2 linked regions of the Homo sapiens genome follow. The protein of the gene in region 2 purifies or fractionates together with the protein of the main gene of each other region. This does not show direct contact. Each region holds a gene or a part of one and is shown on either strand. Other genes may lie near its edges.

What was found. Proteins that work in one complex are often made in the same cells at the same time.
Region 1: the proteins of PIP5K1B (region 2) and APAF1 purify together in Homo sapiens (affinity purification with mass spectrometry; one large-scale study listed by BioGRID and IntAct). This does not show direct contact.

Annotation. Positions count from the first base shown.
Region 1 is NC_000012.12:98,732,290-98,735,933, forward strand, and holds the end of APAF1 (apoptotic protease-activating factor 1), read left to right. Parts: intron 1-130; coding exon 131-277; 3' UTR 278-3,144; downstream 3,145-3,644. UniProt on the Homo sapiens protein: Oligomeric Apaf-1 mediates the cytochrome c-dependent autocatalytic activation of pro-caspase-9 (Apaf-3), leading to the activation of caspase-3 and apoptosis. This activation requires ATP. Isoform 6 is less effective in inducing apoptosis.
Region 2 is NC_000009.12:69,005,740-69,009,239, reverse strand, and holds the end of PIP5K1B (phosphatidylinositol 4-phosphate 5-kinase type-1 beta), read right to left. Parts: intron 794-3,500; coding exon 791-793; coding exon of another isoform or gene 787-790; 3' UTR 64-786; downstream 1-63. UniProt on the Homo sapiens protein: Catalyzes the phosphorylation of phosphatidylinositol 4-phosphate (PtdIns(4)P/PI4P) to form phosphatidylinositol 4,5-bisphosphate (PtdIns(4,5)P2/PIP2), a lipid second messenger that regulates several cellular processes such as signal transduction, vesicle trafficking, actin cytoskeleton dynamics, cell adhesion, and cell motility.

The DNA of each region.
Region 1 (3,644 bases), on a different chromosome or scaffold from region 2:
CGAGACATTTTCCTCCTGTTTGCTTGAGTTCGGTTGGGGGGAGGAGATAGGGTAAAGGATCTGCTGGCACTATAAATTGTCACACAGTGTAATTACCAATCTAATGAGAATTTTATTTTTCTCTGAACAGTGGTGGAACGTTGTCACTGGGGAATCCTCACAGACCTTCTACACAAATGGAACCAATCTTAAGAAAATACACGTGTCCCCTGACTTCAAAACATATGTGACTGTGGATAATCTTGGTATTTTATATATTTTACAGACTTTAGAATAAAATAGTTAAGCATTAATGTAGTTGAACTTTTTAAATTTTTGAATTGGAAAAAAATTCTAATGAAACCCTGATATCAACTTTTTATAAAGCTCTTAATTGTTGTGCAGTATTGCATTCATTACAAAAGTGTTTGTGGTTGGATGAATAATATTAATGTAGCTTTTTCCCAAATGAACATACCTTTAATCTTGTTTTTCATGATCATCATTAACAGTTTGTCCTTAGGATGCAAATGAAAATGTGAATACATACCTTGTTGTACTGTTGGTAAAATTCTGTCTTGATGCATTCAAAATGGTTGACATAATTAATGAGAAGAATTTGGAAGAAATTGGTATTTTAATACTGTCTGTATTTATTACTGTTATGCAGGCTGTGCCTCAGGGTAGCAGTGGCCTGCTTTTTGAACCACACTTACCCCAAGGGGGTTTTGTTCTCCTAAATACAATCTTAGAGGTTTTTTGCACTCTTTAAATTTGCTTTAAAAATATTGTGTCTGTGTGCATAGTCTGCAGCATTTCCTTTAATTGACTCAATAAGTGAGTCTTGGATTTAGCAGGCCCCCCCACCTTTTTTTTTTGTTTTTGGAGACAGAGTCTTGCTTTGTTGCCAGGCTGGAGTGCAGTGGCGCGATCTCGGCTCACCACAATCGCTGCCTCCTGGGTTCAAGCAATTCTCCTGCCTCAGCCTCCCGAGTAGCTGGGACTACAGGTGTGCGCACATGCCAGGCTAATTTTTGTATTTTTAGTAGAGACGGGGTTTCACCATGTTGGCCGGGATGGTCTCGATCTCTTGACCTCATGATCTACCCGCCTTGGCCTCCCAAAGTGCTGAGATTACAGGCGTGAGCCACCGTGCCTGGCCAGGCCCCTTCTCTTTTAATGGAGACAGGGTCTTGCACTATCACCCAGGCTGGAGTGCAGTGGCATAATCATACCTCATTGCAGCCTCAGACTCCTGGGTTCAAGCAATCCTCCTGCCTCAGCCTCCCAAGTAGCTGAGACTACAGGCACGAGCCACCACACCCAGCTAATTTTTAAGTTTTCTTGTAGAGACAGGGTCTCACTATGTTGTCTAGGCTGGTCTTGAACTCTTGGCCTCAAGTAATCCTCCTGCCTCAGCCTCCCAAAGTGTTGGGATTGCAGATATGAGCCACTGGCCTGGCCTTCAGCAGTTCTTTTTGTGAAGTAAAACTTGTATGTTGGAAAGAGTAGATTTTATTGGTCTACCCTTTTCTCACTGTAGCTGCTGGCAGCCCTGTGCCATATCTGGACTCTAGTTGTCAGTATCTGAGTTGGACACTATTCCTGCTCCCTCTTGTTTCTTACATATCAGACTTCTTACTTGAATGAAACCTGATCTTTCCTAATCCTCACTTTTTTCTTTTTTAAAAAGCAGTTTCTCCACTGCTAAATGTTAGTCATTGAGGTGGGGCCAATTTTAATCATAAGCCTTAATAAGATTTTTCTAAGAAATGTGAAATAGAACAATTTTCATCTAATTCCATTTACTTTTAGATGAATGGCATTGTGAATGCCATTCTTTTAATGAATTTCAAGAGAATTCTCTGGTTTTCTGTGTAATTCCAGATGAGTCACTGTAACTCTAGAAGATTAACCTTCCAGCCAACCTATTTTCCTTTCCCTTGTCTCTCTCATCCTCTTTTCCTTCCTTCTTTCCTTTCTCTTCTTTTATCTCCAAGGTTAATCAGGAAAAATAGCTTTTGACAGGGGAAAAAACTCAATAACTAGCTATTTTTGACCTCCTGATCAGGAACTTTAGTTGAAGCGTAAATCTAAAGAAACATTTTCTCTGAAATATATTATTAAGGGCAATGGAGATAAATTAATAGTAGATGTGGTTCCCAGAAAATATAATCAAAATTCAAAGATTTTTTTTGTTTCTGTAACTGGAACTAAATCAAATGATTACTAGTGTTAATAGTAGATAACTTGTTTTTATTGTTGGTGCATATTAGTATAACTGTGGGGTAGGTCGGGGAGAGGGTAAGGGAATAGATCACTCAGATGTATTTTAGATAAGCTATTTAGCCTTTGATGGAATCATAAATACAGTGAATACAATCCTTTGCATTGTTAAGGAGGTTTTTTGTTTTTAAATGGTGGGTCAAGGAGCTAGTTTACAGGCTTACTGTGATTTAAGCAAATGTGAAAAGTGAAACCTTAATTTTATCAAAAGAAATTTCTGTAAATGGTATGTCTCCTTAGAATACCCAAATCATAATTTTATTTGTACACACTGTTAGGGGCTCATCTCATGTAGGCAGAGTATAAAGTATTACCTTTTGGAATTAAAAGCCACTGACTGTTATAAAGTATAACAACACACATCAGGTTTTAAAAAGCCTTGAATGGCCCTTGTCTTAAAAAGAAATTAGGAGCCAGGTGCGGTGGCACGTGCCTGTAATCCCAGCTCCTTGGGAGGCTAAGACAGGAGGATTCCTTGAGCCCTGGAGTTTGAGTCCAGCCTGGGTGACATAGCAAGACCCTGTCTTAAAAGAAAAATGGGAAGAAAGACAAGGTAACATGAAGAAAGAAGAGATACCTAGTATGATGGAGCTGCAAATTTCATGGCAGTTCATGCAGTCGGTCAAGAGGAGGATTTTGTTTTGTAGTTTGCAGATGAGCATTTCTAAAGCATTTTCCCTTGCTGTATTTTTTTGTATTATAAATTACATTGGACTTCATATATATAATTTTTTTTTACATTATATGTCTCTTGTATGTTTTGAAACTCTTGTATTTATGATATAGCTTATATGATTTTTTTGCCTTGGTATACATTTTAAAATATGAATTTAAAAAATTTTTGTAAAAATAAAATTCACAAAATTGTTTTGAAAAACATTTTTGGATTGTTTCATTCTTTGCTTGTCATTTATCTGTTGATTAGACCACTAAAGTGAAGGATTCAAGCTAAATACATCAACCTTTCTATTTAGGCTTTATCAGCTATATGTAAATTCAATTCTATCAAAATTTTCTGAGTGCCTCCTCAGTGTGTCTCTCTGATGGTTCCTGCCCGGTATGGCTGGCATGAAGAAGATCCTGTAAAAAAGAGAATTCATTTATTTATTCACTTAGTTTGTTCATGCATTTGTTTAATAAATATTGAGATGTACCATGTGCCTGGCATTGTGGTAGGTATTGGGAACACAGGAGTGAGCAAAACAAAAGTCTTGCTCTACTGCAGTTAAGGGCCAGGGAGAGGCAGAAAAAGTAAATAAGTAAAATCTATAGTGAATTTGGTGGTATGTACAAGCGGAGGGGAAGGGGTTACGGTTTTAGATGGACTGGCTCTTTCAGAAGCTGACACTTGTACAGACCTGAAAGATGTGAGGAAGTGA
Region 2 (3,500 bases):
TTATTTTTAATAAAAGAAGAAATGGAAAGACCATAAATCACTGGAATCGATGTACCACCACAATTGAGAACAAAATATTTTATTTCTCTCACAAAACTATAGTTTACAGTAGTATTTACTAAATAAATTATATAATTTCTCTTTTACAAGCAATAAACTAGATCACAAATATTTCAAAGACAATGTATGTACACGACATAAGGCCTTTTATAAATAGCTTTGCTTTTCTCATTTCACTAGTAAACAGTGAAAAAATCTTTATAGAAGCTAGTTTTCTATAAAGTGAAGGCAGACCTAGTATATTGATCTTTAAATGAAACCAATTTAAACTTTCAATGACATGAACTATAATTTTGCAAAAGAATTTATACTTAATTTACCATGTGTGTGGATGGATTTTTAAAAATATATAAGCAGATTACATATGTTGCTTATGTATAATCACTGGATGCATGCACAATGAAATAATGCAAAAGTCCATAGGAAAATAGCACTTCCAACTCCAAAAAGGTGATTGGCAATGGTACAGAAAGCAGCTTAAATATAGTTCATGCAGTTCTTCACAGTTCAGCAAGCAACAGCAAATGATAGAATAGGGTAGTATTTTTCACATCCCATCTGCTGATCAGCCTGAAGTTGACATCTTGAAAACTCTTAAGTCAGGTTGATGATTTCTCTGTGTGTAGTGGGGCTCAGCCAAGTTGCTGTGGATAATTCTGGTGCGGAGAAACTTCTCTGCCATAACTGTGCTCACGTCTCATCCATGTGCTTAGGTGATCACCATTTTCACTTACTGGGGGGAGCAAAAAAGCAGGTGTGAGACTAGATTTTGGCATCAATTTGTAACCTCTCCCCATGAGTCGCAACATAAGTTCGTTATTTCTCCCAATCACTTGTGTCTGGAAAATGGGGTGCATTATGTTTGGGATTCTTCTGCAATGATCAGCATAGCATATACTTCTTTGGTGGACCTGAAACCTGTTAATTACACCAATGTTTATCAAGATTGAGTCCTGACTACATCACAGCACTGTGCTCGGGACTTGGAAGGAAGCAACACTGACTAAGACACCCTCCTGCCCTCCAAGTGCACAGGGATGAGGGGATGTGCTGTGGTATATTAGATCTGAAGCCAAAAAGAACAACTTGAACATGGCCTTGAACTTGTAAATGTTTTTTTCCAAACAATATCACTGTGGCTGGGTGGTAACAATATGTTCAGCAAATGGTAGCTATTTAAATGGTAGCTATTTAAAATCAGAGCCAGCTAACTCAACCTGTGACAGCAGCACTATGATATATGTGGGGAAAGCAATATTATATTCAGCCTTTAGAGACAGACACATTGGGTCAAATCATCTGATTTCCTATTTTTTTTTTTTTTAGATGGAGTCTCACTCTGTTGCCCAGGCTGGAGTGCAGTGGCAAGATCTCAGCTCACCGCAACCTCTGCCTCCCACGTACATGAGATTCTCCTGCCTCAGCCTCCCGAGTAGCTGGGACTACAGCTGCCTGCCATCACGCCTGGCTAATTTTTTGTATTTTTAGTAGAGATGGGGTTTCACTGTGTTAGCCAGGATGGTCTTGAACTCCTGACCTAGTGATCCGCCCACCTTGGCCTCCCAAAGTGCTGGGATTACAGGCGTGAGCCACCTCACCCGGCCTGATTTCCTAATTATTTCATCTGTAGAATATTATGCAACATCTTCTTGGAACCTTGTTGTTTCATCTATAAAGTGGAGGTAACAAACTCTACTTTATAGGGTGGTGGTGAGGGATAAATTTTTCCATGGGGAAAATGAAGTGTTTTACACACACACGATATACACAAATCATATATTTATAATTGAGTACTGTACCTGGCATGTGCTAGTACCCCCAAAATTGTAGTGAAGAAGGTTGGAGCTGGGGGTCACAGAGACTGGTGCAGCTCAGCACCTTTAATTGGAGGCTTGAAAAAACTTGAGTAAAAAGTTTGAAATAACTGAAAATTATTAGGAAAGAGAACATGTCACATACAGGGAATTCTGTTTAACAATTAATATTTTATCTGAGACTATTGTGCACTGTAATTTTTATGAACTTACTATTTTGTTTTATACGTTGGCCGCTCCCTCTCATTCACCTAAGCTAGAAAGGTTTGCTTGGCTAAATGCACAACATGGTCACGCTGTTACTCAAAAATAATCTGTAGGAAGAGGTGAGTGTAAGGTGCTATAAGCTATAGCAGTGGGCAAGTGGGACGTTGCCCACATTCCCAGGATAGCTGTCTTTAAGGTGGACTGGTGGATTTCATTCAGCCTCAGTCTGATAACTTTGATGTATGGTGCAGGTCTCTCACAAAACCAGTGACATACAAAACAACCCACATAAAATGATGAGGTCCTACTGATTAGATTTAGAAGTCCTGCGTTCTTAAAAAACAAAGCAGAATAAAAACAAAAAGAGGTGATAGTTTTGCTTTCCTCGTTCTATAGATCACACTGGAGTTCTGTGTCTCATTTCCAGTGCCAGACTCTGAGAGGGACAGTGAGTAACCTGAGTGATGCCTGAGGAGATCCACCAGTGAAGGGCCCTGGAGCCAGGACCCCAGGGGAATGGCTAAAGGCCTGGGCTTTTTGGTCTAGAAAATAGGAGAGGTAGAGACAGGGCATAATAGTTGTCTTTGAGTCTCTGAAGACTAGCCTCAGGGAAGAAAGGCTTAGGTATTAGTTTAGTCCCGGTATTGCTGAAAGATGTGACACTGTCACCAGCAATAGTGGCACAGATGCTGTGATCCTGGGGTCGGGAGGTGAGTGGAATCTCAGAATGTGTGAAGGGCGTAGAGTTGTAAAGCTGCACCCCCTCCACTCTTTCTTCATTAAGGATCCTGAAATTTATGTCCTCCCCCAGCACATGTCATGTGTACATGACGCAAGCCCTCCCTAGATACAAGGGCCCAGCATGCCATCTGCTGAGACTCAGTGGTTGAGAATGATCCCAGAAGCCAGAACCCAGGACAACTGCATGGAAGCCAGTTTTTTCTCAAGCTAGAAGTGCTTTTTAACCGGAGTAAAAAAAATGAGTGGGCTGGGTATGATGGGTCACGTCTATAATCCCAGCACTTTGTGGGGCTGAGCCCAGGAGTTCAAGAACAGCCTTGGCCACATAGTGAGACCCTGTCTCTACAAAAATAAAAAATAAAATAAAATAATTAGCTGGGTGTGGTGGCATGTGCCTGTGGTCCCAGCTACTCAGGAGGCTAAGGTGGGAGGATTGCTTAAGCCCAGGAGTTTGAGGCTATAGTGAGCTATGATCACACTGCTGCATTCCAGCCTGGGTGACGGAGAGAGACCCTGTCTCTAAAGAAAAAAAAAAAGAAAGAAATGAGTGGTCACTAAAGAAGGAGCAGTTGCTGTCACTTAGGGATCAGCCCCAGGAGAGCTGAGGCAGAAACTGTTTATCCTGACCCAGCACCCAGAAGGCACAGTAGAGAGGACTTGGGCACTTGTGGGTAGCTT